Homo sapiens: one gene and its partners. The protein of the gene in region 3 interacts with the protein of the main gene of each other region in a pairwise test. Each region holds a gene or a part of one and is shown on either strand. Other genes may lie near its edges. The genes, in order: SLC35A4, PLN, CPLX4 and PTPN9.

What was found.
Region 1: the proteins of CPLX4 (region 3) and SLC35A4 interact in binary tests that used the Homo sapiens proteins (3 or more experiments, as listed by UniProt).
Region 2: the proteins of CPLX4 (region 3) and PLN interact in binary tests that used the Homo sapiens proteins (3 or more experiments, as listed by UniProt).
Region 4: the proteins of CPLX4 (region 3) and PTPN9 interact in binary tests that used the Homo sapiens proteins (3 or more experiments, as listed by UniProt).

Annotation. Positions count from the first base shown.
Region 1 is NC_000005.10:140,560,210-140,568,163, reverse strand, and holds the start of SLC35A4 (probable UDP-sugar transporter protein SLC35A4), read right to left. Parts: upstream 3,337-7,954; 5' UTR 3,321-3,336; coding exon of another isoform or gene 3,306-3,320; intron 2,292-3,305; coding exon of another isoform or gene 2,193-2,291; intron 1,600-2,192; coding exon of another isoform or gene 1,402-1,599; 5' UTR 995-1,401; coding exon 20-994; 3' UTR 1-19. Other genes in the region: SLC35A4 upstream microprotein, read right to left, coding at 1,402-1,599, 2,193-2,291, 3,306-3,320; APBB3 (amyloid-beta A4 precursor protein-binding family B member 3), read left to right, coding at 3,919-3,967, 4,249-4,412, 4,494-4,570, 5,441-5,501, 5,665-5,811, 5,937-6,064, 6,315-6,320, 6,442-6,577 and 4 more. UniProt on the Homo sapiens protein: Mediates the transport of CDP-ribitol. Does not exhibit CMP-sialic acid, UDP-galactose and UDP-N-acetylglucosamine transport activity.
Region 2 is NC_000006.12:118,543,698-118,551,438, reverse strand, and holds the start of PLN (phospholamban), read right to left. Parts: upstream 3,144-7,741; 5' UTR 3,047-3,143; intron 1-3,046. UniProt on the Homo sapiens protein: Reversibly inhibits the activity of ATP2A2/SERCA2 in cardiac sarcoplasmic reticulum by decreasing the apparent affinity of the ATPase for Ca(2+).
Region 3 is NC_000018.10:59,315,592-59,323,548, reverse strand, and holds the start of CPLX4 (complexin-4), read left to right. Parts: upstream 1-4,899; 5' UTR 4,900-5,086; coding exon 5,087-5,253; intron 5,254-7,957.
Region 4 is NC_000015.10:75,576,029-75,583,957, forward strand, and holds the start of PTPN9 (tyrosine-protein phosphatase non-receptor type 9), read right to left. Parts: upstream 3,288-7,929; 5' UTR 2,749-3,287; coding exon 2,686-2,748; intron 1-2,685. UniProt on the Homo sapiens protein: Protein-tyrosine phosphatase that could participate in the transfer of hydrophobic ligands or in functions of the Golgi apparatus.

The DNA of each region.
Region 1 (7,954 bases), on a different chromosome or scaffold from region 3:
GGGTGGAAGTTGTCAGGGACTAGCGGCTGCCATAGTACAGGCGCATGGCCAGGCCAATGAGCAATGTGGCCAGGAAGAAGGCGGCTGTGAGCTGCAGCCGTAGCAGGACTGCTGAGAGCACGGCGTTGACCACCAGCGAGCAGGACACCACAAAGAGGCGTGTGATGCTGCTGCCATGCTTCATGACAGCAGACATGAGCAGTCCATTTAGTGCCTGGCTCAGCACCACGAGTGCTGCCCATCCTGAGAAACCTTCCAGGAGGCCTGGGCCAGAGCCGCCGCCAGCATGCAGACCTAGATTCAGAAGCACACCAAAAGTGTAGAGGAAGAGGTTCTGAAGTGCCAGGGGCAGCCGCTGTCGCTTCATGAGCAGCTCTGTGTACACTGACGACAAGCCTGAGATGAGGCAGTACAGAATGAGGAGCAGCAGGCCTAGCGGAGTGATATGCAGGGGCATGGGGCTGGCAGCAGCTGCTGGAGGGGGACTGGGAAGGGTGTTCCCGGGAACTTGAAGGCCCCCTGCTGCATAGCAGGCTCCCGCAGCCATCAGCAGCAGCAGCGCTAACCCCTGACGCACAGAGAGGCGGTGCCGGAGGCAGAGGCAGTAGAGCACAGCTGTGCTTCCAATCTTGAGATTACTCAGCACCTGGTAGGTGCTGGGGTCCATGTAACGCTGAAGATAGATCACCAGGTTGTTGTTAGCGCCATAGAGCAGGGCTGATAGTGCGAAGGGAGCAGCCTGGCGCCAGGGTGGGGGCCCCTGGGGCCATGCTTGCCAGCCTACCAGAAGGGAGAAGGCGCATAACAGTAGCTTGGTCAGCTCAGTCAGCAGCACGGCTGAGGAGGGCCGGAAGGGCACTCGGCCGTCCACATGGCACAGTGCCAGCAATGGGGCATGGGCACCGTACATGGCAGTGGATAGGAGTAGCATCAGGGTCCAGCGGGCCTGCCTGGGACGGCCCAGGCCTGGCATACCCCCATCCTCTACACTCATACCCACACAAGACCCTGGGTGGCTAAGGGGCAGCAGGGATTGCAACACGTTTGGGGAAAATCAAGTTATGGAGCCAGCTCCCAGGAAGGAGAAGCCGTGGAACATTGCCAGAGAGAATACTGAGGATCAGAGGCATCTACCAACTCCACAGTCAGGGCTTGAAGAGTAAGGGGCTGGTGGTCCTTGAAGCCACAGTCTTGGGGCGAGTCCCATGGAGCTAGGAAGGGGAAGAAGGAATCCAGGGTGCAGGCTGAGGAACTACTGTCCACAATCTGCAGGAAGGGAGGCAAGGATGAAGGTGGCAGGAAAGTTGGAGATAGCAAATGGATGACAGCTGGGGAATCCAGATAAAGTGTCTCCACCTGAAGGCTGAGCTGCTCATCCTGCCTCTTCCATGGCACCTAGAGCTAGTCGGGCCCCTTGCGTAGCAACTGCAAATAGTCCCTTAATGTCTTCTCCACGTTGGGCACAGCATATGCCTGAGCCGCATAGATGCCAGTGCAGGTGCCCACAGCAAAGCCCAATACTGCTGATGCCCTCAGTTTGGCCACCACATAGCCAGCCAGGAATCCCTTGAGGAACGGGGAGGACAACAGCGAGCCATCCTGCAGAGAAAAATGCAGAAGGAAACTTAGCTAGGCTCCTTCCTGACTGTCCAGGGGCTACTCAAGCTGGGATTAGAGCATTCCACCACCAGCTCCTCCTCACCCTGGACAACCGTGGTATTTTCTCCAGATTTTTCCCAAGGTTCTGGGGCCAGAAAAAGAACCAAGCAGTTCTGATCACACAATCTCAGAACCCTGGGGTCAGAAAGCTCCAACCATAGAACTCCACCGCCACACAAGGTCAGAGATGCCCCTAGCCCTGCCGGTTTCTCCAGCCTCATTTCCTAGCATGCTCCCCAACTACTGTAGCCAAATGGACCTCCTTTCACCCCTCATGTTTATAATGCTACTTCCTACCACAAGGCCTTTACATATGCTGTTCTGCCTGGAATGTTCTTTCCTCCCCTCTTCACCTACTTAACCACTACTTAAGATATTAGTTCATGTGCCATTCAGAAAAATTGTCCTTAGGGTGACTGAGAATAGGCCCTCAATAATCACTTGCTGAAGAAATCTCTACCATCCATTTAACACTCTCAAGAGCATGTTGGGCAATAAAGCCTAAGGCAGGGGTGGGGTGGGACAGTCCTTACCTGGCCCACTCCACTGTTGACTTCGTCTTCTACACGCCGCTGCAGGCTTTCCAGCTGGTTCTTGAGAAATGCCAGGTCCTTAAGCTTAGGCAGAGAATCCTAGGACAAGCGAGAGGCTGGCTCCAGCAGTCTGACTAAGCCCCACCCCTTGCTCAATTCCATCAGAAGCTGGGAATTGGGAGGGGATGGGGTGAGCCAGAAAGACCTTTTCCTATAAAAGCTTCCTGAGATGGCAGTGGCAAAGAAAGACAAGCATTGAAAAGCACAGAATTCAAATGAGGGCCAGGAAGGGACTGACAGATGGGATCTGAACCAGTAACTTACATCAACCTTGACAAGAATTTTATATAGCAAGCAGTATGTAGGAAAGGCAGGAGGGACAGCTAGGGACCTTTAATTAGGTCCATCAGGAAACCACTACTGACTCCATTATGAGCTCCTTGAAAGTCGTGACCAGTCTGTCTTGGCTACTATGTTCTAGTGCCTGACATTTAGTAAATGTGTGGGTAATGCTGAGCTTCTAGACCAATGGTGAGTAATGGACCGAGGCAGTTTCCTGGACAATTTTATTGTCTTGGTTCCTGGATGGGCTTTACCTCTTTCTTCCCAAGGACATCCCAAACTGAATGTGAGTGACTGGATGTGACTGAGAATGACAAAAAAGACTGTCGGCAAGTGTGTAAGTAAATGGACTGAGTGATTTTGATCGCATATAAGTATGAAATTCAGAATGTATGCAAAGGAGTGTTTGAATGAGGGTGGTGTGAGTGTCCGTGTGATTGGAAACATCGTGTCACTGGGAAGAAAATTTCGGGAGCTAGGGAATGGGGTAAAGTGAGGAGTGTTTAAGGGTGAATGTTTTTGAGTCTGTGCTAGTAACGGGTTCGTGATGGTTCCCAGGAGGGGACATCTGGGGGATCCACGGCTCCTCCCGCCTCGCCGAATGCTCTCCCCACACCACTCCACACTGTTGAGGCAGTTGACAGGAGCCGCAGAAGAAACAAGGGACATCCTCACTCCTGAGCCGCTCCAGAGTCGCTTCTCCCCGGAACTAAAAAGGTCAAGGAGAGTGAAGACCACGCCCGGCTGCAGATCACCCCCACGGCCACTCACCTTGTCATCCGCCATCTTCCCCGCCGAACTTGTTGCGCAGGCGCATCCCCGCCTCCCTCGTGCCGACTGCCCCGGCCATCTTTACGGAGGGCGAAGGCACTTCCGGAGCATTTTTGGAAAGGGGGAGGTGCTTTCCTAGTGGCCAAGTACGCCTCTCTCAGATACTTCCACGTGACCCCCTCCCGTCGAGTCTCAGGCTGCGTGTGAGCGCACTCACGACCGGGGCGCGATGATCTCACTCGTGCGCGAGTGCGCGCGGCGCATGTTCGGCGTGTCGGTCTTCAGGCGCCTGATGAGTTCATAGTTGGGCGGTGGTGTCAGCGGTTTCGCTGGCGTTCGTGGGCCTCCCCCGGACCCACACACGGAAACACGCAACCATTCGGGGATCCAGACGCCCGTTTACACGCACCACCCCTGGGCGGGCTGTGCGGCTCAGGCCCTCCCCCGGGACCGGCCCGTGTCCCGCCCCGTGTCCCGCCCCGTATTTGTGCGGCGCCAGCTGGCCCCGCAGCCTGCGGCGCAGAGAGGCTGGGCTTGCAGGCGCAGTAGCTCCAGAGGTCGCGCTGGGCTGAGAGTGCGGGCCGGCAGAGGCTGGCGGGGAGCAGCCGGGGTTATGCTGGGCAAGGATTACATGCTGGCCATCATTCTGGTCAACTGCGATGGTGTGCACGGAGGGGCCCGGTGGGAAGACCAGGAGCTGAGGGAGGACGAGGGAATCCGAAAGGCTACTCTGGGGCTCAAAGACGGTGGGGGATACCTCTCTGTGTAGGGACCAGGGGGCGAATGAACCCGGTCTTTACATGTGATGTCTTCAAGATTGAGGAGCCTGGATCTTCAGCCTAAGAACTGACCCATTTTGGGGATGGAGAGGGGATTATGACAGCATGTTATTCTGAACTCACAAATCATATGCTCCCTCCTCTCTAATCCGGTGTTCCTGTAGATGACTTGTGGGGGGACCACAGTCTGGAGGTGGAGGCTGGCCTGCCTCCTGGCTGGAGGAAGATCCACGATGCTGCAGGTACTTACTACTGGCATGTACCCAGCGGTAGCACCCAGTGGCAGCGCCCAACCTGGGAACTAGGAGATGCAGAGGACCCAGGCACGGTAGGTAGAGTGTGAGGAGGAGGTCTGAGCCCATGTGTGGACCTAGGTCTGCTGTTAAACTGACTAACTCCCACTCTACAGGGAACGGAGGGGATCTGGGGACTGCGGCCCCCCAAAGGGAGATCCTTCTCCAGCCTGGAGAGTTCACTGGACCGGAGGTAACGGGTGGCCCAGGCAAAATGAAAGGCTTGGGGTTCCATGGTGTTCAAAAATGCAGCTGGACCCATGGTCTGCTTTCCAGCCCAGGTTCTGGATTCTGTCACATGTTTTGGGTTCTGTTACGTTCTTGGCTCTGTCCCAGGTTCTTAACTGTCAGTATTTTGAGTTTTATCCCTTGTTCTAAGCTCTTGTTTGTAGCTACATGTTTTTCATATTCTTGGTCCTAACCTATCATGTTCTAGACCTTGGCCATTAAGTCCTCTGTTCTAGGGTCTCTTGTCCCACTTTGGGGTTCTGGTCCACATATTGGACCCTGTTCTATTTTGTGACTTTTATTTTTTATTTTTTGAGATGGAGTCTCACTCTGTCATCCAGGCTGGAGTGCAGTGGCACGATCTTGGCTCACTGCAACCTCCGCCTCCCAGGTTCAAGTCATTCTCCTGCCTCAGCCTCCTGAGTAGCTGAAACTACAGGCACATGCCACCATGCCCAGCTAATGTTTGTATTTTTAGTAGATATGGGGTTTCACCATGTTGGCCAGGATGGTCTCGATATCCTGACCTCATGATCCACCCGTCTCAGCCTCCCAAAGTGTTGGGATTACAGGCGTGAGCCACCACTGCACCTAGCCTTGTGACTTTTATTCTATGTCCTGTGTCTGGGTCCTATGTCCTGAATTTTCCCTCAAATTCTGAGTCACACTTTATGTTACGTTAATATGTCCTGGGCTCTACCCTGCTCTGGTTTTATATTTCTGGTGCTATATTCTGGGTCTTGCCCCTCATCCTGTGCTTATCAAGTTGTCTAGGCCTCACCAGTGTCCCTACTGTAGGAAATGTGGTCCTCTTAACAGCTCTGCTCTGTTTCAGTAACTCTCTGTCCTGGTATGGTGGGGAATCCTACATCCAGAGCATGGAGCCAGGGGCTAAGGTAGTGACTTGGGCCTGAGGGCATTGGGAGGTCCCAAGGGAAAGACAAGGGTGGGATTGGACTGAACAGAGGTGATCAAGGGTGAAGACAGGGAGTATGTATTGTGGCACCTGCCACCCTACTCCATCCTTATTAATTCCTGTCCCTTCCCCCAACCTGTCAGTGCTTTGCAGTCCGCTCTCTGGGCTGGGTAGAGGTACCTGAAGAGGACCTGGCACCGGGGAAGAGCAGTATTGCAGTCAATAACTGTATCCAGCAGCTGGCCCAGACCCGCAGCCGGAGCCAGCCTCCAGATGGTGCCTGGGGTGAGGTGAGTTGGCTGGGCCCTTTAATGGTTTGGGCCCAGGGCCCAGCAGAGGTAGCTGTCCCTGAATTTCCTATTTCTCATGGCAATGACCTTTATCTGAGCTCTGGGCTGACCTCTGTCCTTGGCAGGGCCAGAACATGCTGATGATCCTGAAGAAGGATGCCATGAGCCTAGTGAATCCCCTGGACCACAGTCTGATCCACTGCCAGCCTCTGGTGCACATCCGTGTGTGGGGCGTGGGGAGCTCCAAGGGCCGGTGAGGATGCCTACATCCCCCAAGCAAGAGCTACTTCTCCCTCCCGGCTGCAGGCTGTGATCCCCACTGATGCTGATCCCCAGTACTTGAACCCCTGGACACAGATCCTCTGATGTGGACCCAGGACTGCTTCCCCTGCCTGGTCCAGCCCTGGTTGGGGAGGGTGGGCCCAGCTCAGCAGGGACAGTTTGGGGAGAGTCCGAGAGGCTGGGCTGATTCCCTTCTGTGCTCCCACATGCTTCCGGAACAGTGACAGGTGAGTGAAAACCAGGTATCCTGAGCCCCATCCCTGATGTCCCTACTCCATCCCTGCTATATCCCTAGCCTGACTTTCCAGCCTCCTGCAGGCTCCTGCCTCTAACCAGCTTCTACCCCAGCCCCATCTCTGCCCCTGCTAGGGACTTCGCTTTTGTGGCAAGTGACAAAGATAGCTGTATGCTCAAGTGCCATGTGTTTTGCTGTGATGTCCCTGCCAAGGCCATTGCCAGTGCCCTACATGGGCTTTGTGCCCAGGTAAGTGTCAGGGGTGGGGCAGGGAATGTGGGTAAGGGGTTGGGTCTGAAGCTTCCAAGGTAGTTGGGGTGGTATTGGCCCTTTTACCCTAATTCCCCTCTCTCCCTGTGGGTCATGCTGGCTTCATTGTGTTTTAGATCTTGTCAGAGCGAGTAGAGGTCAGTGGTGATGCCTCTTGCTGCTCCCCAGACCCCATCTCTCCTGAAGACCTGCCACGGCAAGGTATGGGGAGGGGAGACCTGCATTGCTGCATTGGGGTGCTTTGGTGCTGCTTTGTGGGGGGGCGATTTCTGGTTATTTAATACTTCTGTGGATAAATTTCTGAGATGTCTGGTCTCAGGGATCCCAAGCCACTAGTTGGAGGAGCATCTATGAGCCATTTCTTCTACCAGCACCAGCTCTGACCTGAGTCCTGGCCCATTGAGAAGGGTGGGGAAAAGGGTAATTGAAAGAGCTTCCAGGCCAACTTGGTGTGTATATTTCAGTGGAGCTGCTGGATGCGGTAAGCCAAGCTGCTCAGAAGTACGAGGCACTGTATATGGGGACACTGCCAGTCACCAAGGCCATGGGTGAGGACTGAGGGGGCTGCATGTGGTGGGCTGTGTGAGGCAAGGGGAAGGTGAGTGAGGTGAGGCCTGTTATCATTTCTCAAGAGTCCTCCCGTGGCCTTGTTATGGCCTGGGGTCTACCAGCCTTCCCAAATCAGAATTCTAAGGCTTGCCCCAGCTATCCTATTCCCTATCTCTGAATCCCAAATCAGTGAGAGGGGGCTAGACACTCCCTGCAGACTCTTTCTTTTACACTGGGAGACACGCTGGGTATGTTCCCCCAGGCATGGATGTGCTGAACGAGGCCATTGGTACCCTCACCGCCAGGGGGGACCGGAATGCCTGGGTCCCCACCATGCTCAGTGTGTCTGACTCTCTCATGACTGCACACCCCATTCAGGTACCAGAAGAGGGTGAAGTTGGGGGCTTTGGAGGGGTGAGCAGGGATGCTGAGGGGTCACTGCTTGCTGTCGGAAAAGTTAAGTGGGTCTGGCCCGTGCTTGGCCCTCTAGTGACTAGGCCTGGTGTGGGCAGGCAGAGGCCAGTACAGAGGAGGAGCCATTGTGGCAGTGCCCTGTGCGCCTTGTGACATTTATTGGTGTTGGCCGCGACCCACACACCTTTGGCCTCATCGCTGACCTGGGCCGTCAGAGCTTCCAGTGCGCAGCCTTCTGGTGCCAGCCCCATGCAGGGGGACTCTCTGAAGCTGTGCAGGCTGCCTGTATGGTGAGTCATGGGTGGGAATGGGTTGGTGGGATTGCCCTGCAGCTGCTCTCCACTGTTTACTTGGGCTCCGGGTCGGCAGCCTCTTCAGAGATCACAAACCTGG
Region 2 (7,741 bases), on a different chromosome or scaffold from region 3:
GAGAATATGGGGAGGTAGTATTGAGAAAGTCTTAAGGATTTAAAATGAATGCCACTTAATAAATATACCCCCTATTAATGTGAGTGAGTTAGTCAACCTTTTTTTTTGTGCGGGGGTTGGGGGTTGAAAACTAAAGATGGAGTACCTTTTCAAAGGCACTAGAGGTCCTCAGTTGACTATGAGTATGCTGTACATCCAGGCTTCATTTTCATGTGTTTATTTGGTAACACATGCTTCAGAATTACTCTGGGTAAGAACTTTGAAATTGTACAAAGAGACTACTTGATTCTAGGGAACCTAGAATAAAGTATCGAAATGTGATTTTTGTGAAAGTTTTGAGGAGATGTTAACTTGGATTTTAGGTATCAGATGAATTGAAGGCATGAGTATTTTAGCAATGAAACAAATAAAAGGAAACTTTGATTGATTGGGGTGTGTTATTTTTTTTAAAGTCTGTGCAGTTAGTTTGAATTTTGCCTTCCAGGAGGTATTGCTTAATAACTAAGGGCATCTGTAATTTTCGTATATTTCTGGTTTTGAAAATGATCAGTAGAATATAATTTAGACTATTAAGAATGTAATGCTATGCATAAATTGAATTTAAATGGAGTGGAATGGCTTTTAATTAAAATAGAAGTTTGTATTCTCTGAATTTGCCTTTTGCCTTTTAGAATATCATTTACAGTATTTGGGGGCTTTCAAATTTTGTTTGTCAGTGTCATGGTTTACTTTAAGCCATGCTGATCAGTATATAGAGGATGTGCATGTGGCTTAGTGACAAAACCTAAACTTCTGCCAAGGTTTCCCTGTTTTCTTAGTTCTGTGATCTTGAGCAGTTCACCTTTTTGCATCTTTCCTAAATTGTAGAATAGGGATGCAGTATCAAATATATAATTAAGAGGACCAAATGAAATATTTGTGTACACGAGTATATTAGGAAATTGCTCTTTAAGAATAAAAAAGAAGTGTTCATTGGCCCTCCTCATTTCTGGGATTGGTAATATATTGTCTAATTTGGAGAGGTAACTAGACTTTAGGTTTTTTAATTAAAAATTTAATATATTACATAATTTAGTGTACATGTGTAATGAGTACATTAAAACATTAAAATACATTAAAATTTTCTGAAACTATTGTATTTATGCAATATTTTATTATTTCTTAATCTCACTAATTAAAGATATGATTATATACCCAAATGTGATCATTTTCCTTTATGCCTACTAAAATACAAATAAAATGGATTTGATATTTGAGTTTTAGGAAATGATAGTGCTGTCACGCCTTTTAGTAAAGCAAGTACTCTGGCTCTTTCATGCGTTTTTAAAACTTAATGCTTCTTAATTTAAACATCTTTCATATTTTTTCCATTTGATTTCATCTAACACTTTTTTTAGCACTTACTTTGAAACCACATGTCTTCATAAACAAAGATAATACTTAACTTGCACCTTAAGGTATAGATGAACTAGTTGGGACACAATGTATGGTACTACCACATTATATTTGAAATTTTAGCAGTCTCTGTAACTGTAATTTCTGTTAACTGAGACATACTAGTGAGCTAAGGGTAAGTTTAATATAATTTCTGCTCTATCCAGAAGTATGTGTACTTTTTAGAGTAATATGTGATATAGCAAAATTCTGATACAATAAAATAACTCGTGAACACCCAATTTGAAGTGTGAGAATGTAATTTGATAGATATTTGAATAAAAATGCACAAATAACATAAGACACCTACACTGAATGACTTTTATGTACTATCAAAGGAAAAATATGAGTATAGAGATATGGAGACACAATTAGGATACCTCAGTGGTAGACAAAAATTATGTTTTTTTATGTCTTAAGGAAAGCTGCTTACAGAGTTACAAAGTTCTTATTTGTAGTGAGCAATAGAATTAACATTTGTCATAGGAATTGAGAATTTTAGAGATAAATTTTATTTTAACATATATATGAAATATGAAAATCAAAATAAATAAAATATATGTAATTTTCTGTATGCCCTGACAGAGATCTAAGAATGAGGAAACGTTTCATTTACTAAATTGAGGATTGTAACATAAAGAATAGGGTAGAATTCAAACAGAAGTCATAAAATTGATTGTGGCATCTCCATTCCTGGCATTTATTTTATTTTTTCCTTTCTTTCTAAATCCGAGAGAGGAAATGGAGTACCACTGGAGGATAATAACTTGACAAAACTATAGGCATTAATAGGCAGAAATCCATTTAATCAAATTTGTGTGAAAATAAGATAGTTAAGAATATTCGTGTGTCAAAATAACTTTTTAAAGTATCAAATTATTCTCTAACGTCAGATTTTTTGTGTTTGTGAACATTGTTTTAAAATTTCTAAACTTCTTTATGATACAATATTGAATTTAATATCAGTAACTCAATTTATTAATAGCATGGAATTTTTTTAGAAATGTTTGTTAAAAGTTGACTGGACTTTAGAGGGGAAACATCCTCAAGGGCACTTTAAAAGTAGCTTGTATTATATATTCTGAAACTCCATTTCATTATTCACTGTATGAAATTATGATAATATTGGAATAGGCATGCTGATAATGTGCATGTTGTAGTCAAATGACTATTCATATTAGTTCAGATGTAAATAGCTCAGTTCTGCACTGTTTCTCAGCAGAGCAATAAATAACAAAATTAAGTCATTGTTTTTGCATGGAGAAATTAACCACTACTACCAAATATGGTAACATAATTGGAAGATTTTTTAATTGGCAGAAATTCACATTTGAAAAGCAAAATAAAAGTGAAAGATAAATTTAAATGACAAACCAGTAACCAGGATCAAAGATGAATATGACCTTTTTCATTTCAAAGTTGTCTCATTTTTCCTGTCACTAAATGGATAAGCATTTATAAATTTAAGCACTTTGTCATGTCATTTTATTGCCTAAGATTGAACTGATATTCATAAAATTAACTCATTTTAAAAGTTCAGATTATAGAAATTATAGGAATTAAGAATTATAGAAAGTAAGAATTACCAAAGTCAGCGAAATCTGTTTCTTACCTTGGCAGCTGTGATCATCACAGTATAGAGTATTGTGTTGTATGAAGTCTTACGGGTGTTTAGCTGGGGAGTTTTCTGACTCTGTCACCCAGTTTATGGGAACAGTTGCAGTAGGTGGAGGAGAAAAAGTGTTCTAGGGAGGTCTTATGATGTCACATAGGAATTCTGAAGTTTCGATTGGTTAGCCACAGTCTCAGTCTTATCACAACCAAACTTTAGAACTTCTTACTTTAGGTATGGAAAAGTCATTAACACTTTGTGCTTCATCTTTTGTTTTTAATTTAAAACAGTATATGGTAGATAAATGAAAAAAATAAGTAAACTTGAGGTGGTGGAAAGCTTTTGTTAAAGATTCATGCATCTTCAGGCTTAGAGATAATTGAATATTAATGGTGAAGATGTTGAAGAGCTAAAATAGTTACTGCAGGAATTTTAATTATGAGAAAAATAAACACAGGTATAAGCAAAACAACTTTCATTGAATTCTTGCTGCTGTTGCTTTAATACGTGTCTTCATAATGTTAGCTTTTAGTGAAAGTGAAATATTTTTACACAATAAAATTTTATACCTGTTTTCTTATTTTGTTCTTGTTCTTGTGTGTATGGGAGAAGGAGTATGAGAAAATCAGGCTAATTGCTTTTTGTTTTAAAAAATTATTTTTATCTTACAGTTAAAGAACTAATAAATGTATTTAATTCATTTGTGTTTTCTTCAATTAGCAGTTTAACAATATATTTGTGAATAGTAATACTTATATTTAAACTGATACATACAACACCCCCAAAATAGCAATATGCTACTTTAAGTATTTAAGATTTTTTAAAAACAATTGCATTAAATTATTACACAATCTTACCAAATTTTTAATAAACTGATGCAGTATTAAGGGCAACTTTATGGCAAAAAAGAAATAATTACAGATTCCAAATCAGTTACATCTCAGTTAATGAGGCTTTATAGGTTTGATGTGTTGAAATTTAAGTTTTGTAATGTTTTTGAAAGGATGTGCCTCATTTAATCTAGCAGTTGCTTTCCTGAAAATTACTATAAAAATGAGATGCTAGTAAGTGAGATGATATTTTGAACTTCCTAGAACAGTTTATCTTACAGTAGAACTGGGGAAATAATTTTTTTGTAAAGCCGGGCATCATTCTCCTCTTCTCTGTTTATCTAATTTGTTGTCTTAGATGTTAGATTTACTTAAGTCACCACACTCGAAAATATTAATTCTTAAATCTCTTCTTTAATTTTAGAGGAGGTACTTGTAATTTTTAATTTTTTAAATGCTTATGACAGAGTGAACTTAGCCCACTTCACTTTCTTATGGGTAACTAAAATGTGTAGCAGCAGCTGCTTACATGCCCTTAAATGGAAATGATCTTGGCTTCTTCCAAAGAAAGAAAATCCATCTCTAGAGCAAATCATTTGATATTTAAAGAGTCAGCTTAAAACTAACTGAAAAATAATATTTTAGCAAAGATATCCTGTGAACATTGCCAAGGGAAAATTTACAACTTAAAAGTAAAACCCAAGTTAAGGAAATTGCAGAATAATGTTTGATACTTTTCTCAGTGCTACAACCATTTTTCTTTCAATCCTTACATAATGAGGATCTCTCAGTACTATCAGTTACCAATGATGATTGATAATACAAAACCGAGAAGCCTAACGAGGTTTACAGTAATTTGTCAGAGATAACCAGCTGCTAAAGAATAGACAGGATTCAAATCCAGATCTGTCTGTTTATAATTCCTAATCTGTTGGCATGCTGTGGGAAAAAATTATAATTTGAATATAGCTTTCATTAGAGTAGCATATAGTAACTGAGAAATTTTTAAGATGTAAATAGATGCATTCTTGAGCACTGTTAATAGTTTTAGAAAGTCTGCTTTAAGTTTGTCTACCAGTTACACATTCATTTGAAATTTAGGTGATAGATCATTGTTCTGAGAACTTCTCATTCTAAGAAAATAGAATTAGTAATACTTAGTTGGATAAACCAAGAAGCTGCCGTAGACAGAATAAAATATGCCCTAGTTACCACATGTTTATAAGTTTACTTAAAAAGTATACATAGGCATATACACACCTTAGAAGGATACTAACAACTGTGTGTGACACAGTTGGAAAATGGATTCAAAAATTTACTTTTTAGATTGGTACAAGAGTGGGGAGTTTTTGTGTTTACCTTGTTCCTTTGGGTTAGCTAGTGAAGATGACGATGATGGTGATGATCTCATGTGGAACTCTAGGAAGTATTAGATTTTAGTTTTAACTGAACATTGTTTTTAATTGCCCAAACAGAAAGTTGTTTAATAGGAGTATTAATGAGTTATAGTGTTATCAGTAGAGTGTTCCTCAATGATTCCTCAGCTAGAGGCTAGAAAATTTTTTTGAGGTGCTTTGTCACAGTCTTCATTTGGAGTTACACTATAGTTTGAATGTATTTTTGGTCACATGGCTTTATACAAATAACTTTCCTAAGCAGCCTAATCTGTGGAATAGTATTTGTGATGGTTTAATGACATGAAGTGTACATAGTGATTATCAGAGATCCTGCAACAGTGTTCATTTAGTGTTAGCACTTATTTTCTTTTTTCCTTTAGAAGGTGGATTCTTAAGGGTAAAGTGTCTTTGAACTTGGATGGGAAAATAATTACAAATTTATTTTTACTAAGCTCTAAATGAAATTTAGTATTCAGTTTCAACTGAATCATGAGTTCATGTCTTTACTTTTGTTTTTATATAGTTTTGTAGCATTTTAAATGTGTTCCTCAAAAGTATTACTAATTTTTTTTGGAAGGGGGTGCGGAGTCTCACTCTGTTACTCAGCCCCGAGTGAATGGTGCGATCTCAGCTCACTGCAACCTCTCCCTCTCGGGTTCAAGCGATTCTCCTGCCTCAGCCTCCCAAGTAGCTGAGACTACAGGCGTGTGCCACCACGCCCAGCTAACTTTTGTATTTTTAGTAGAGATGGGGTTTCACCATATTGCCCAGGCTGGTCTCAAACTCCTGACCTCGTGATCTGCCCACCTCGGCCTCCCAAAGTGCTGGGATTACAGGCGTGAGCCACCGCGCCCAGCTATATTACTAACGTTTTGTGAAGGGCACTGTGATGTATGTAGTAATCTTTTACATTGAGCATTTAAACTCCAGTCTGTAGTGGTGTATCCGGAGGGCGAAGAAGCTTCAAAATAGAATCGGTTTTTGGAAATTTTTGACCAGAAGTTAATATAAGTGATGACTAAATTAAAGCATTTTAATATTTAGACAGAGATACAGTAAAATGCAAGCTTTGAATCAATTTTTGTAATGTTCACAATACATCAAAGATAAGGAGCTTTTTTTAGATTAGATCTCCTAGACACCCAGGAAGAAGATTTTACCTATCTCTTGAGGGTACTTGAGGGTTTGATAATTACTGCCTTAAATTTTAAAGCTACGTAGGGAAGGACTGGTTCAAAAAACATCTAAGCAAAACTGCGAATAAGAATTAGTGGTCTGAGATTGAGAGGATGGAAATTCTCTCCATAGGGCAATAGGGAAAAGAAAATAAGATTTACTCATCAACTGGAGTTGGGGGGCTGTTGATATAACCCAGTGATAAAGTAACCTATAAAGCTTAGGGGTCATTTGGGGGAGGTAGGTTCACTTTTCACTTGATTTGCCAGATAACCTGGAGACCCAAACATTTTATTTTTTCATAAATATCTGAATTCTGGGCAAATTCTCTTTCCTCATCTTGATGAGGGGTGGAGAAGAGCATTGACATTAAGAGAGGCCAGATGGATTAAGAAAAGGACTCATATAGGTCTACATAAATTTTGGAAAGTTATTAAACATTCTAAGTGATAGAAATGCTATAGCATGCTACGTGGCTTCAAGGAAATTATGGTTTATCAGTATACAAATAATATGGAAATGAAAATTTAACATTTAGAAGGTAACCACTAGTGCAAGATAACACCAGGAGAAAAAGAAATTCCCAATTGAGAGTCAAATGAGCACGTGTAATAATAAGCAGTATGACTTCTAAGAGAAGTGCATGTTTTGTACAAAGGAAACGGACAGAACCAAAGCCAAAAATAACAAAGGGAAACACATACATCACAAAACAAATTTAACAACAAAAACCAACCCTTAGGTCTCCAAATACTTGCTTCAAAATTCTATAGGGTCCCGATCATGATGCTGTTACATTGTTAAGAAGGTTCTATTTCAATTTAATGATTGTAGTATTTCTCCAGACATATTAAATTTCTTATCTTTGTGGTTGATATCTCAGCCCTTTGAGCTCCTCGCATTCGCAAACTTTGTGGTGGCACTATCACTGATTTTGATACAAAATTGAAATTGGAGGCTCATACCTTTTCTGTCTTCTGCCAGACTCCCCATTCACTTAGAAACCAAATGCAGATTGTGAAATATGTCTTTGTTCTCATAGCCTGACCAACTCTCCTCTTAACTTTCATAGACGTTTATTAACTAGTTTTTCTACCCTTCGTTGTGACTCTTTCCTACTCAGTTTTTACTCTGATATCCAAGTGCACATTTGATTGTCATTCACATGCTGAGAACTTTTTATTGATTTCTCTTTCGAGATGAAAAACCCACTCTTTACAGAATTACATAAAACATCGTTCCTGATCTGTCCATTGCCATGTATGCCTACCATAACGATTTGACAACTCTGC
Region 3 (7,957 bases):
GATGTCTGTGAACTGAAATAGACCAGTCATACAGTGTTGGCAAAAGAAATACTTTAGGGGCTAGGCATGGTGGCTCACACCTGTAATCCCAGCACTTTGGGAAGCCAAGGTGGGAGGATCACTTGAGCCCATGAGTTTGAGACCAGCCTGGGCAACATAGCAAGACTTCATCTCTACAAAAAATAAAAAATTAGCCAGGTGTGATGGTGCATGCCTGTAGTCTCAGCTGTTCAGGAGGCAGAGGCAGGAGGATCGCTTGAGCCCAGGAGGTCAAGGCTATAATGAGCCATGGTTACGCACTCCAGCTTGGGTGACAGAGTGAGACCCTGTCACACACACACACACACACACACACACACACACTCACACACAGATTTTGAAACGTTCGGTATAACACTGCTGAATATTTCTGGAAGACAGAAGAATCAGCCCGGGATACATTTCTTAAAATGGCCACTTTGGGAGACAAAGGATTGAGATGCTTTGAGTCTCCACAGAGTCACAAATGGTCTCACAATCTATCAGATAACAATGGGCCAAGGTAGTACTGAAGAGACTCTTTGGTTCTGTAGCTCAATGAAAACCATACTGTCATGATTGGGGAATTTCTTTGCACAGCTGGTATATAGCCTTGAGTTTGTATCTACAAGAATATTAACCAATCCTATAGAAATGAAAACAAACATGCTACTTGGCCTGGCATTTCAATACAGTTCATTAAATATGTATTAAGCATCTATGATGTACATGACACTCTATTAGGTAAAACACAAACCACTAAAATGTCTCCAGTAGGCAGTTATTAGGATTAGGACTACGTGTTTAATTTCCTTTGTGGTTTCCGTAATGGTCCTTCTATTTCCCAAGACTTTTTCCTCTTTTTATATTACCTCTTTTTTCCCAGTTAAAATAGAGGTTGAAAATTAATCCCAGTGAATCTCATCTTTAGATCATTTCTACACTTAGCCAATTAGCCAAGTGTGGTGACACATGCCTTGGCGCTTGGTGACCTTTTTCTTCTTCAGTTCTGCTGACCTTCATGAGCACAGAGGTTTAGCTGCATGGTTACCCCTGAAATGTTGTGTCACCCGCTAAGAGGATATAACAACTGAGACAGGACAACCTAATCACCATGATTTCCTTGGGGAAGGTCAAAAAAGAAATGATACCACTAGCCGATTTTAATTACAGGAGCAAAATTTAGGTATTTGATGTGAAAAGAAAAATCCCAGGTGAAGGACCAAAATGGATTTATGCTGTTTGAATGTGATCTCTTTCTAAAATTTAATTCCACTAATGGGATTATTGCTTCTTTAGCAAATTCTTTGGGTCAGATACCATCAAAATTTTCAAGTTGAATAGGCCACAACGAATCTGTGTTTACAAAGGTGATCCATTAAATCAGAATGAGGCATGATTTTAAAAAACTATGGCAAGTAGTCTTGATCCTGGGAGCTGGCAAAGAAGGCAGCAACCACTATGAGGTGGATTTGTAAGCACTAAGATGCTACTTCTGTTATTGGTGGAGGGTGTCCAGGTTCTTGGCATTTTGAACAAGGAATTAGACAAAACGCACAAACAAAGCCAGGAAAGAATGAAGCAACAAAAGCAGAGATTTATGGAAAACAAAAGTAGACTCCACAGACTGGAAGCGGCCCCACCATAGGGGCTCAAGAGCCCCTTTGCAGAATTTTCTGGGGTTTAAATACCCTCTAGAGGTTTCCCATTGGTTACTTGGTGCACACCCTATGTAAATGAAGTAGTGGCCTGCAATCAGTCTGATTGGTTGCGGAAAGCAAACAATCAGAGACTGAAGTGAAGTTACAAAGGTTACACCCTATGCAAGTATCTGATTGGTTGTGGAAAGCAACCAATTAGAGGCTGAAGTGAAGTTACAAAGTTACACTCCTATCCAAATGTCTGATTGGCTGCAGAAAGCAGCCAATCAGAGATACTTTGAATTTTCCATCTGCCACGTAGAAAAAGTTGGTGGGGGTGGGGGTGGGGGTCGGGGTGGGGGTGGGGGGCCGGGAGTTGCAAAGGGAGTAAGGAAGTAGCTTCCAGTCCTTTTGTTACTTAGGTGTGGAAAGTTGGGGTTTTCCTTTTAATTTAGTTCTAGGAAGTCAGCATGAATTGGCCTTAGGTTCCCTGCCCCCAGACCCTATTCTCCTGTCTCCCTTTTGCCTGAAGATAACTCTCCAAGTGCCTCCATCATCCGATGTAGTACCTTGATTACTTCCATTGAAAGCGATTTGCTCAAAAATAAGCCATTAGGCCTAGTGGCAATCATTCATTCATTGTTTTCCCCCAAGATTCTTATTGATCACTTACTATGTGCTGAGCATGATTCTCAGAGATGGGGATGCAAAGGTGAACAAAATTGCACTGGTCTCTCTTATGGAGCTTACATTCCAATGGAGTAGATGGAAAGGAAACAACTAAATCAAGGAAAATATACTTTCAGGTAGAGTGCAGTACTATGAAGAAAAATAGAATAGGATAGAGGATTAAAAGGTGGGGTAGTGGAGGCAGGGTATCTTAGGATGGTCAGGGAAGTCCCTCTAAGAAGGTGAATGAGAACAGAAACCTGAATTAAGCAAGGGTGAGCCACCTAGAGATGTGGAAGAGCAATACAGGCCAGGAGGTTCCACAAGGACATAGGTGGGAGCAATCTTGGTTTAAGGGCCAACAAGGACATGAATGTGATTAGAATGAGCAAAGGGAGTGTGGCTGAAGAGGCTGGCAGCTAGGCAGTGGGCAATCTTGCAGCAAGGAGTGGGGATTCTATGCAAGGACAGTAGGGAGCCATGGGATGGGGACACCTAGAGGTCCCATTCATGAATCCAGGGCATTCATTTCCCCTTTCTGAAGGAACGGAAGATTCTACCACCATTTCTACAAGATTCTACAGCCAGGCTTGGTGGCTCACACTTATAATCCCACCACTTTGAGAAACTGAGGCAGGCAGATCACTTGAGGTCAGGAGTTCAAGACCAGCCTGGCCAATATGGCAAAACCCTGTCTCTACCAAAAATACAAAAGCTTAGCCGGGCATGGTGGCGCATGCCTGTAATCCTAGGTACTCGGGAGACTAAGGCAGGAGACTCGCTTGAACCCAGGAGGCGGAGGTTGCAGAGAGCTGAGATCCTGCCACTGCACTACAGCCTGGGCAACACAGTGAGGCTGTCTCCAAAAAAAAAGATCCTACACACCAGCTAGTAGTTCCTGGATGTCCAAGGGCAAAGGTCATTGTAATAAATCAAGGAGTAAAAAGTTTTTTAAGTCGTGACCTCATTCTCAATGGAATTACCTGTTGAGGAAATAATAAGATATTTGATTTCATAAAGCACTCTCAGGAGACCTTCCACGGCGACCCTGCTGAAGCTACCACCGAAGAGTCCCCATAATGCATGACACCCCCTCTTCCTAACCCCCTCCACACAAACATACATTCAGAAAAGGACGGGACAGGGAGAAACTCCTTTACACATGGGTGCTGGAGTTTAGAATTGACACCCTCACCATTAATATTTCCTAATTCCTCATACAATGGAATTTTTAGAATAGATTTTATAATAAATCTAAATAATTACTTATAATAAAATGTAGACCGAACAGACAGAAACACAAGGCTGTGGCTTTTATTTTATGGTTTGAAAAGTTCTATGAGACAACATTAATTAGTAACATTCCTCAGTGGACTGCAATGTAGTTTATTATAAATGGTAATTTAGAGATAATGGTATGAACGTGTTAAGTTCCAAGCAACCCATCTAAAAGAGAAAGTGGAACTCAATATTGATGGGCATTCTCCTCGAAGCCCTGAGTACAGCTTATATTTCACCCTAAATTATCTTTTTTAGCCTTTCATATTGAGACCATTTAAGCAGCATTTTAAAATAGATTACTAAAAGGGAAAGCAGACGATAAAATATATAAAGCAAGCATTTTAGGCAAGAATCCAGATTATGTAATTCTATATGATCAGAGAGATAATCACCTGGTTTCTGAGAGGACTCATGCCTTCAGATAAAATAACAATGGATTACATCTCTTCCTTCCCACCCCACCCTCTTTGGCAGGCTTTAATTAGAAAGATACTAGTGTAGATTGAAGTCTTAGCCATACTCAACTCTTCCCTTGACCTGAAGAAAACCACAGCCATAGAGAATCTGGTGGGATACAAAACATTGTCAGTTTCATCCAAGTACACCAGTGAGCTTAAATAGAGCACCCAGGAGGTGCACTCTTTATGCAAGAGAAAAAAGGTGACCCCTTACATATTGATGATTTGACTCACATAATGGTCTTACCTTCTGGATCAGAGCCTTGAAGTGTCAAGCACATCATTTCCATATAGACAAGTAATATTTCCATGCAGGAGAAGGCTAAGATAATCTTCCAGATGTAAACCAAGGACCTGCTGTCTGGGTCTTTGCATTTGTCAGTTGTGTATTTATGTGCGGGACACAGTAACTATTGAAGCAAACCGAATTCAAGCAAACTAAAAAGCAAATCCTTGCATAGTACTTAAAGTCCAATGAGATAAAATGATGGATCGAAAGGATTATTTTTGCTTAATGAAGCATTCTGGGTTTTGAGTCTCATTGGACTCAGTTTTTCAACAGGATGTTTTGCTCAAGGGCTGGAATTTGGAAATTCCACAACAGCTATATAATCAGTCAGCTCTGATTAATTTAATTGAAACAGGACTCTTGATGAAGCCCTGCTGTGCTTATAATTAAAAATTTAGAAAGGGGTAGATGATGTGGGGATTTCTTTTTCCTGTGAAATTAGCTGAGTGTATTAATTCAGAAGGTAGGCAGTTGCCTCTGATTGTATGCTTCGGTAATCTGAACCATCTGCCTCTATATACTAAGGAGTTCACCACTTTAATCCAGCTTACGGCCGACAAACCACTCTTCTCTATCAGTATGCCCTTGAATAGATGAGGTTGTGCAAAGTCCTTTGCTCTTAAATGTATTGCTGTCATTGAGAATATTTGGAGGTTTTCTCTTGGGTTTGTTTGGATTTTTTTTTTCAGCTTTTGTCTGAATTTTGGTTTTATTTTTCTGGGGCAGAGAAAATGGCTTTCCTTATGAAAAGTATGATAAGTAACCAGGTAAAGAATTTAGGATTTGGTGGTGGGTCTGAAGAAAATAAAGAAGAAGGAGGTGCATCTGATCCTGCAGCAGCTCAAGGGATGACTAGAGAGGAGTATGAGGAGTATCAAAAGCAAATGATTGAGGAGAAGTGAGTACATGCTATTTCATTTCCCTTAAAAAGCAAAGGAAATTCATTCTGGCCATACCTTCTTCAGTTCTCCAGTTTATTTCTCTTTGCTTTTTAAGATGCCTTTCCTTTTGCCGTTTACCTCTAACCCAAGGAAAGGTTGTTCTTCTAAAGTAAACGGTTCCCTAACATCAGCAGCTACTATGTTCTATGTTCTACATGTATGAATGGAAATGAACAATAATAAATGAATCTATATGTTGTTCTTAAAGCAGCTTAACACTTTCTGGTCTAGGCATGTTTTGATTGACCTCAATTTAATTATTTAGATGAAAAGTGGTAGGTTTAACTATCTTTACATTCTTTCTAAACTTCACCCTCTTAGCACGTAGAAAGTCTTCAAATTGTAAGAATTCAGACCTTATACCTAGAAAAGGGCCTAAAATAACATAGAGGGCAGCTTCTTTGATCTTGCATGTGAGAAAAAAAAAAAAAACCCAGGAAGCATAACATGACAATTATGTCATAAGACTTGGCTTATCAAAGACTATGAATGGATTTGTGGACTGTTTAATATGGAAATTCTAAACATACAGAAAAGTAGAATAGTAGGACAAATACCCACATATACCTATGACATAAAATCAACAGCTTACAGTTTGCTACATTTGCTTAAAGATTAAAAAGATAGATGGTAGATAATAGCTTTTAAAGTAAATTACAGATGTCATGTACTTCACCCCCAAATACTTCAGCCACCTTCCTCCAAAAAATAAAGGCATTTTCTTGGCTATATAAAATATAACAAAAATAAAATATAAAATATAAGCAACATTTAATTGGGTATTATAGAATGTGAATATCACCAACAACTTTTCACCACTTGAAGACTGATTCTGAAATAAATGTAATCTCTGTGTAATTTTTAAATGTTTAAGGTAGAATTAAGATTCTTTTAATAATCAGTTAAGAAATGAAACATCAATCTAGAGGTTAAATGTTTATCATATGTTTCAAAAGAAAAGTATTTCTTTTTTGCCACCAGGACTCTTTTGCTAATGATCAATTACATAATAGTTGCCTAAATCCTATCGCTAAGATGATTATAGGTGAAAAGGTTAATGACCTGGAGGAAACAAAGAAAGTACAAAGACTACGTTTAGTGGAAACCTTGTCTATTGTATTTTTCTGAAAGAAATCATGGCTTATAGACTACCTAGAATACATTATGCTTGGTTCTGCAGTAACTTAAAGTTGGTTTTTAAAAAACAGTCAATGCAACTAGCAAAAATGATGGTGCTAAGACTTGGGCAAAAGAAGCAGCATTCCTTGAATATTGGCTGATTTTACCTATGGCATGCAAAAGAACAAAAAGCTTAAAAGCAAAATAAGTACTGTGTAATGAAGGATAGAAGACAAAAATCAGCATCAAACATTCTCAGATCAAGTAGGCTAATGAAAACAGAAATGTAGACTACAGTTGTGAGCATGCAAAATATCACCTAATATGTTCAAGCAGCAGATCCGATTGCAGATAAGGCATCTATTTGATTAACTAATGTCCTAGTTTTCCTTAATTTTATATCTGGACAGATCAAAGCTCAAAATGGCCAAATCATACAGTCAATCAGCAGACTGAGTTGTCAGCTACTCAGCTTTTTGCATATGTGTGTGAGAATATTATATATTTATGTAGTCACTCAATGTAAGAAATAGTGTCAGGACAATGGAGCATTTGGCTTCCCTATGATAAAGAGGGATGACTTTCAGTCCATTGTTTGAGTTTTCAAGAATTTCACCACCTAGAATGCAATATGTAGTAGGCATTAAAAATAATTCATCACAAGATAAACGCAGAGAGAGCTACAAACAGTTTAGTATATATAATAATTAAAATCAATGTTAGCAAATGAAAGCCTCCTAAACCCATCCTCATCATTGTAGGAAGTGGGGAGACTATATGAATTATAAATAAAAAACTATTTAGCAATGCACTCTATTTAATAATGCACATTCATTTTTATTTTCTTTCTGTGTTCAATGTGTGTGTGTGTGTGTGCGCACGCACCACTGGTAACATTAGTACTGAAAGAGGTCTAAACATAAATAGACTATCTGGAAAGGAAATAAAACAATAGTCTGTTTCTCCCGCCATTTTCTCAATTATATTAAAATGCTTCTTTGCCATAGTTATGCTTCAACAGTTTCTACAATATCATTTGTAACTTGACTCTGACCTTTGTTTTATTCAGTAATTGTTTGGACCCCTAGTATGAGCATAGCATTGTGAGGAATGTACTGAAATGGAAGAGATGGGTTTTCTTCTGCAGGAATTTACACTTTACTTGGTGGGGGGAGACTAGCTAGCTGCATGTGACTATAAACAGAGCAACCAGCTTTTCTGCGTGATTTGTAGACTGGCTCTGGAGGACTGGAATGTAACTCTGCGTGGCATTAGTATCAACAAATCGATCAATGGGGTTTATAGTTATTTGATTTTCAACAAAAGCGCCAAAATAATCAGACCAGGAACGGAAAGTCTTTTCAACAAATGGTGCTAAACAACTGAAAAACATTGAACTTTGACCCCTACTTAACACTATACACAAAAATTAATTTGTCATGCATCATACACGTAAACATAAAAGCCAAAATTATAAAGCTTTTAGAAAAAAAAGTAGGAGAATATCTTTGCAACTTGAAAGTAGATGAAGATTTCTGTATC
Region 4 (7,929 bases), on a different chromosome or scaffold from region 3:
CGAGACCATCCTCCAACATGGTGAAACCCCGTCTCTAGTAAAAATACAAAACTTAGCTGGGCATGGTGGCACGCACGCCTGAAGTCACAGCTACTTGGGAGGCTGAGGCAGGAGAATCGCTTGAATCAGGGAGGCAGAGTTTGCAGTGAGCCGAGATCACAACGCTACACTTCAGCCTGGCAACAGAGCAAGACTCAGTTAAAAAACAAAAGGGTACTTCTGGCTGTGTGCAGTGGCTCACACCTGTGATCCCAACACTTTGGGAGGCCAAGGCGGGTGGATCACCTGAGGCCAGGAGTATGATGAGACTAGCCTGGCCAACACGGTGAAACCCCATCTCTACTAAAAATACAAAAATTAGCTGGGCATGGTGGGTACCTGTAATCCCAGATACTCAGGAGGCTGAGGCAGGAGAATCGCTTGAACCCGGCAGATGGAGGTTGCAGTGAGCCGAGATCACGCCATTGTACTCCAGTCTGGGCAACAAAACCCAAACTCCGGCCAGGCGCAGTAACTCACGACTGTAATCCCAGCACTTTTGGAGGACGAGGCGGGCAGATCATGAGGTCAGGAGTTCAAGACCAGCCTGGCCAACATGGTGAAACCCCGCGTCTACTAAAAATACAAAAATTAGCTGGGCATGGTGGCAGGCGCCTGTAATCCCAGCTGCTCGGGAGGCTGAGGCAGGAGAATCGTTTGAACCCTGGAGGCAGAGGTTGCAGTGAGCCAAGATCAGGCCACTGCACTCCAGCCTAGATGACAGGGCGAGGCTCTGTCTCAAAAAAACAAACAAACAAACAAAAAATCAAAACTCCATCTCAAAAAAAAAGAGAGTACTCTTATGTGATATTAAACTAAAATATGGTAACATTAGGCATTACCATAATTAGAACTATACTGCTTTTGTTTCAATATTTTGAAATGCTTGTAAAAAAATAATATTTTGTAGAAAAAAGAGATAAGATTTTAAAAACACACACACACACAATCTCTTGACTTTAATAAACATTTTGCCGTTTCCATCCTAGTCCTTGTTAATGCCCATCACATTCAATTCAGGGTAAAAGATAAGGTTTTTACTAGTTAAACACATCTGTATATATGTGTATGCACTATGTACAAAGTAAAGCCAATACCATGTCAATACTATCAATACTTTAATATTTACTTTTCCTGGTTTTAGTTTTCAAATTTGCAACGGATGCTATTTGCATAGAATACTGATGGCTTTAAGTCTTAAAAACAGAAATCTGACTGACCCAAGGAAAAGGATGAAAGAAAGAGATTTTGTCCCTTTAAAATCAGCCAACACATCCTATCTTAGTACTGAAGTACTTCCCAATTCTGGCAGAATGGGCTCCTTGGCCACCTGCTTGCACTAGGGTCTGACTAGCATTTTATTAACATCCAACTGCAGTTACCAGGACATTCATTACCACTGCTTGTACAAAGCAGAATTCTTTTTAAATTTTTTTCCCATACAGATTTCATCACCAGGTGTCAAAAGACAAAACCGTGGCCTGAGGCCAAATAGAAAAATGTCATCTCCACAAATAAGGAGAAAAGACAAGGACTTTAAAAAATCAGGTCAACAAGCCCATTAGCCAATAATAGTTTGTAAAACTGGACTGTCTTCACACTAGAGGCTGTGCTAGCAAATGTGGTCCTTGGAAACAAGAGCTGTAGAGCTTGAAATGGGTTGCCAGCATGGTTTGCCTTTTTCTTTTTTCATGTTTATTTTTATTTTTTTTATTTATAACATGGAATCAGACTATGACTATAATCGAGCATAGCTATGGCGGGGTATGGGCAGTGCCAAGGAAGAGACAGCGAAAAGCCCGTAGGGTTCCCAGTCTAAGCTAGCAGACCTTCCCATCTTCCTCAGGAGTGGTCCCTGTCTCCGCAGCTGGAATGTGCGGGAGGGAAAGTTACAAGGGCCCCCAAAATGAGACAGCAAACCACTTCCTTCTGAAAACTAAAGGTCATAGGCTTTTAAGGAACAATAGAGCTCAATGTAAGCTTCAGAAAGATGGAGACAGTCAGATGAGACGAGGGTAGGGAAGCGCGGGTGAGGAGATGCGCCCCGTCTGGGATAGCTGAATAGGGGGGTCAAGGCCAGGGACTTTAGGAACACGAGAAGGGCTGGATCTTCCATAACCTGCCCAAGTGGGCCTGAGAAACCTAAGAGGCTCCTCTGAAAATCTAGGGCATCTATGCATCCAATACTCTCAGCCCTCTCCTCGGGAAGGGAGATAATCCCCACAGGAAGCACCCCCCAAACTGGGGCTTTTCCTGCCCTTCAAAAGCCACAAACCCTCACGGAAAACATTTACAAGGGAGTGGAAGGGCCGGGGGCAAGCAGCGGTTCTGCAAATCTCGGGAAGAAGGCCCCTGGATCCAAGGAACTTTGCCCCTGGAATAGGGGGTGGGGTGCGGAGGGCACCGTCTGAGGCTGGTAAGCCTCGGCGAAAGAAGCGGCGGGAACGGGAGTAGGGTCCCGTGGGTCCCCCGACGAGGGGGTGGCGGCCTGGGGCGCGGTCGCCGGTGAGGGAGGCCCGCGAGCCGGGCACGGGAGCGGGGGGCTGCGGCCCCGTGGCTGCAAAGAGCCGGCACTCGGGAGGCAGAGGCCGGCGTAGGCCTCGGGGGCCCGGACACACCCAACGCGGCGGCCTCGGGCCCGCTTACCTGCTCCTCCTCCGGGGTCAGCTCCGGCGCCATGTCGGGCCGGGGCGCGGTCGCGGGCTCCATCCCCCCGCCACCGCCGCCGGGCGGACAAAACTCGCTCGCGAGCGCGGGAGCCCGGCGCGCTCGGCCTCCGCTTCCGCGTCCCCGCGCCTCAGCAGCCCGGGGCCGGCTCGCGCATAGTGTGGCCGGCAGGGCCCGGCGCCTGCAGCGGCCGCAAACGCCGCTTCTGCTTCCTTAAGAAAAATCTCTCCGAACTGCCGCTCTCTTCCGGGAGGAAATCCTTTTTTATATTATTCGCTCCGTTCCTCACACTCCCCCTTATCTCCTGGGGAAGAAAAAGTGCAGGCGAAGAGCTAACAGCCACTCGGGATTTAAAAGGAAATAGGAAATCAGGAACTTTTAGAGCCGGGAGCGAAGGGTCGGCGGAAATTTCCCGAAGGCCGCCGACCCCCTCGGCGCCCCGCTTCCTCGGCCGCGCTCCCGCTCCTCCACAGCGCCACAGAGCTCGGGGCCGCCCAGCCGGGCCGTCCTCGCGGACGCTGGCCCTGCGACCTGCGCGGCTGCCTCAGCCAGGCTCCTCGCGGGCGGCCGCAGCGAAAGGGAGGGAGTGGAGAGGGAGCGAGGGAAACGCGCCCCCCTCCTGACTCACGGCCAACGCTGCGGCCGCCCCGCGGCCGCCCGAGCCCCCCGCGGCTCCATTGAGAAACTGAGCGTCTCATTCACAAGCTGGCGGCGAGGAGGGCCCGGCGGAGCGAGGACGCAGTCCGGGAGGGGGAGACAGAGAGGAGCCCGGGCGGGGGAGGGGACCGGGAGGGGGAGGGGACCCGGGCGGGGAGGGGACCCTAGCTGGACGGAAGGCAACTCGACTGCGGGAGGGAGAAAAAGGAAGAAAAGAGTATTTCGTGAGGCTCAGATCCTCGGAGGAGGAGGAGAATACGTTCGTTTGCAAATTATCTGCTGACTGGCACCTCTCCTGGGGTTAACTTGCCGCTGCCACCTACGCGTGAGAAACCCACAATCCTCAACTATTTGTCGCTTGCAGCCTGAAAGACCCTGGAAAGGTTGCCTGCCAGGCCAGGATGCTTAGGTGGAAGGAATCGCACCTGCCTCCCTCTCTCTCCCTCCTTACTGGCTGCACCCTGTAATTCATCTCCAGTGTCGCTAATTTTAATCCCCCATAGAAACGACATCAGACTCCGAACATCATTCAGGAATGACGCGGCCTTTGCAGACCTTTGATTTTCACTAGGGCAAGTGCAGCAAAGGGTTCAGGATTAGGGGTACAGTCTTGGAGTCATTTGGGGAGGAATGGGGCATAGAGAAGGCAAGGCTGGGTCTGGTACGTTGTTGCATTATTCCAAGCCAAAGATAAATATTCCAAAGGGACCCAAAGTCCACAACTAGTTCCAAGGCTGAAGCCCTGGAGCCAGTCCTGAGGGACCCAAAGGAGGGGCCTTCAGACAACAGGAAGGTGCTGTGAGTTGTGATGCTCCTATGATTTTTTTTTTATTTTTTTTTTTGAGACGGAGTCTCTGTGTCGCCCAGGCTGGAGTGCAGTGGCGCGATCTCGGCTCACTGCAACCTCCACCTCCCGGGGTCAAGCGATTCTCCTGCCTCAGCCTCCTGGGTAGCTGGGATTACAGGTGCGAGCCACCACGCCCGGCTAATTTTTGTATTTTTAGTAGAGACGGGGTTTCACCATGTTGGTCAGGCTGGTCTCGAACTCCTGACCTTGTGATCCGCCCGCCTCGGTCTTCCAAAGTGCTGGGATTACAGGCAGGCGTGAGCCACCGCGCGCCTGGCTTTTTTGTTTTTCTTTTTTTGAGACGGAGTCTCACTCTGTCACCCAGGCTGGAGTGCAGTGGCGCGATCTCGGCTCACTGCAAGCTCCCCCTCCCAGGTTCACGCCATTCTCCTGCCTCAGGCTCCCAAGTAGCTGGGACTACAGGCACCCGCCACCGCGCCCGGCTAATTTTTATTTTTATTTTTTTTATTTTTTTGTATTTTTAGTAGAGACGGGCTTTCACCATGTTAGCCAGGATGGTCTCAATCTCCTGACCTCGTGATCCGCCCACCTCGGCCTCCCAAAGTTGTTGTTGTTGTTGTTGTTGTTTTAACACAGGGTCTCACTTTGTTGCCCAGGCTGGAGTGCAGTGGCGTGATCACAGCTCACTGCAGCTTCAAAGTCCTGGGCTCAAGCAATCCTCCCGCCTCAGCCTCCTGAGTAGGTGGGACTACAGGTGCACACCACTGCACCTGGCTAATTTTTTTTTTTTTTTTTTTGGTAGAGATAGGGGTCTTACTATGTTGCCCAGGCTGGTCTCAAACTCCTGGTAAACTGCCTTTGCAAAATTATAACTGATGATTTTATGACAGTGAAAGAAATCAGACCTAACTGACTCTATCTTGTTTCTAACCCTTAAGCTGTCCTTGTTCATTCCTGGGCATAGGCCGAACTAACTTTGGGAAGGAATTCAGTTCATGGTTTGACTCTGAAACAAAATTGATAATAGCCCTTTCCCGAAAAGACCCCCTTCTTCCCTGGGGTCCAGTCTGCCTTTGCAGGACTAACAGATTAAGCTACAAGATTAGAAATTACAATTTAGGGGTCATGCAGCCATGGGCTCCAAGAGTCTAAACCTCCCCAAACTGCTCCTGGGGATAACATCACTATTGTAAAACCTAAGATCAGTGCTTGAGATATTTTGCAGACCCTGCACCCAGTGCATCAGCTGATACCATCCAGACTGGTAATCTGGCCCAAATAGGTCTGCCATCCCAACCAGGAACAGAAGACAGCAAGAAAAACTCATTTCAACTCCCTATGATCCAATCTCAAACCTGACCAATCAGCACTCTCCACTTCCTAAGCCCCTACCCACCAAATTATCTTTAAAAACTCTGATCCCTTAATGCTCCAGGGAGACTGATTTCAGTAATAATAAAGCTCCAGGCCGGGCATGGTGACTCACGCCTGTAATCCCAGCACTTTGGGAGGCTGAGGCAGGCGGATCATGAGGTTAAGAGATCGAGACCATCCTGGCCAACATGGTGAAACCCCGTCTCTAGTAAAAATACAAAAATTAGCTGGGCATGGTGGCGCGTACCTGTCGTCCCAGCTACTCGGGAGTCTGAGGCAGGAGAAGCGCTTGAACCCGGGAGGTGGAGGTTGCAGTGAGCCAAGATCGCATCACTGCACTCCAGCCTGGCGAAACAGCGAGACGCTGAATCAAAATAATAATAATAATAATAATAATAAAACTCCACTCTCCTGCACAGACGGCTCTGTGTGAATTACTCTTTTGCCATTGCAATTCCCCTGTCTTGATATATCCGCTGTGTAAGCAGCAGGCAAGGTGATCCCATTGGGCAGTTACACTGGGCTCAGGCGATCTTCCTGCCTCAGCCTCCCAAAGTGCTGGGATTACAGGTGTGAGCCACCGTGCCCAGCCTTCTAGGATTTTTGTTTTTGTTTGAGATGGAGTTTCGCTCTTGTTGCCCAGGCTGGAGTGCAATGGCACGATCTCAGCTCACTGCAACCTCCACTTCCCAGGTTCAAGCAATTCTCCTGCCTCAGCCTCCCTAGTAGCTGGGATTACAGGTGTCTGCCACCATGCCTAGCTAATTTTTCGTATTTTTAGTAGAGATGGGGTTTCACTGTGTTGGCCAGGCTGGTCTCAAACTCCTGACCTCAGGCAATCCACCCGCCTCAGCCTGCCAAAGTGTTGGCATTACAGGCATGAGCCACCATGCCCGGCTCCTTCTAGGATTTTAAAAACAATCCCTGACCTCAACTAATTTCTGCATTAATGCAATAGGAACTTCAGGCTGCCCTTGGTAAGAATCAGAGACGATATCCTTGGTATTTGAATCTTTATCTCAGCTAGGATATTTTCTCCTTTGCATCAATACAGCTGACTGGAGGTTGACTTCATCACTCCTTTAGTTTCAGTATTGTAACCAGTCTGGAATACTTTTTTTTTTTTTTTTTTTTTTTTTTTTTTTTGAGTGGAGGTCTTGCTCTGTTTCCCAGGCTGGAGTGCAATGGCGTGATCTCGGCTCACTGTGACCTCCACCTCCTGGGTTCAAGCAATTCTCCTGCCTCAGCCTCCTGAGTAGGTGAGATTACAGGCGTCCACCAGCACACCCTGCTAATTTTTGTATTTTTAGTAGAGACAGGGTTTCACCATGTTAGCCAGGCTGGTCTCGAACTCCTGACCTCACGCAATCCGCCCACCTCAGCCTCCCAAAGTGCTGGTATTACAGGCGTGAACTACTGCATCCAGCCTGCTTTCTTTTTATTGAAGTGTAATATACAGAAAAAGTACAAATATAAGTGTACTGCTTGATGAATTTTTTTATTTTATTTTTTGAGACAGGGTCTCACTCTGTTGCCCAGGATAGAGTGCAACAGCACAATCCTGGCTCACTGCAACCTCTACTTCCTGGCTCAAGCGATCCTCCAGCCTCAGCCTCCCAAATAGCTGGGACTATAGGTGCGTGCCACCAGGCCTGGCCCATTTTTATATTTTTTGTAGAGATGGGGTTTTGCCACATTGCCCAGGCTGGTCTCAAACTCCTGAGCTCAAAGCAATCCACCCACCTCAGCGTCCCAAAGTGCTAGGATTACAGGCGTAAGCCACTGCACCCGGCCAGATGAATTTTCATAAACTGAACACACTCGTGTCTGTGCCCAATGCACAGATCAACAAATAGAATATTCTGAACTTGCCAAAGCCTCGCCTTTTGCCCATCCCCCACCCCACAGTCAGTTACTACTCTGCTGAAGGGTAACCACTATCTTGCCCGTTTTTTTTTTTTTTTTTTTTTTGAGACAGGGTCTCTCGCTGTGTCACCCAGGCTGGAGTGTAATGGCACGATCTGGGCTCACTGCCACCTCTGCCTCCCGGGTTCAAGTGATTCTCCTGCCTCAGCCTTCAGAGTAGCTGGGATTACAGGCATGCACTACCATGCCCATATAATTTTTGTGTTTTTTTTAGTAGAGACGGGTTTTCACCATGTTGGCCAGGCTGGTCTCGAATTCCTGACCTCAAGTGATCCACCCACCTTGGCCTCCCAAAGCTCTAGGATTATAGTTGTGAGCTATCACTCCCAGCCTCAGGCTTGAACTCCTGGGCTCAAGTGATCTGCCTGCCTCCCCCTTCCAAAGTGTTGGGCGTCAGCCACCGTGCCGGGCCAAGTATGCTTTTTCTCCCTAGGCAAGCAAATGGTTCTAGGACTAAA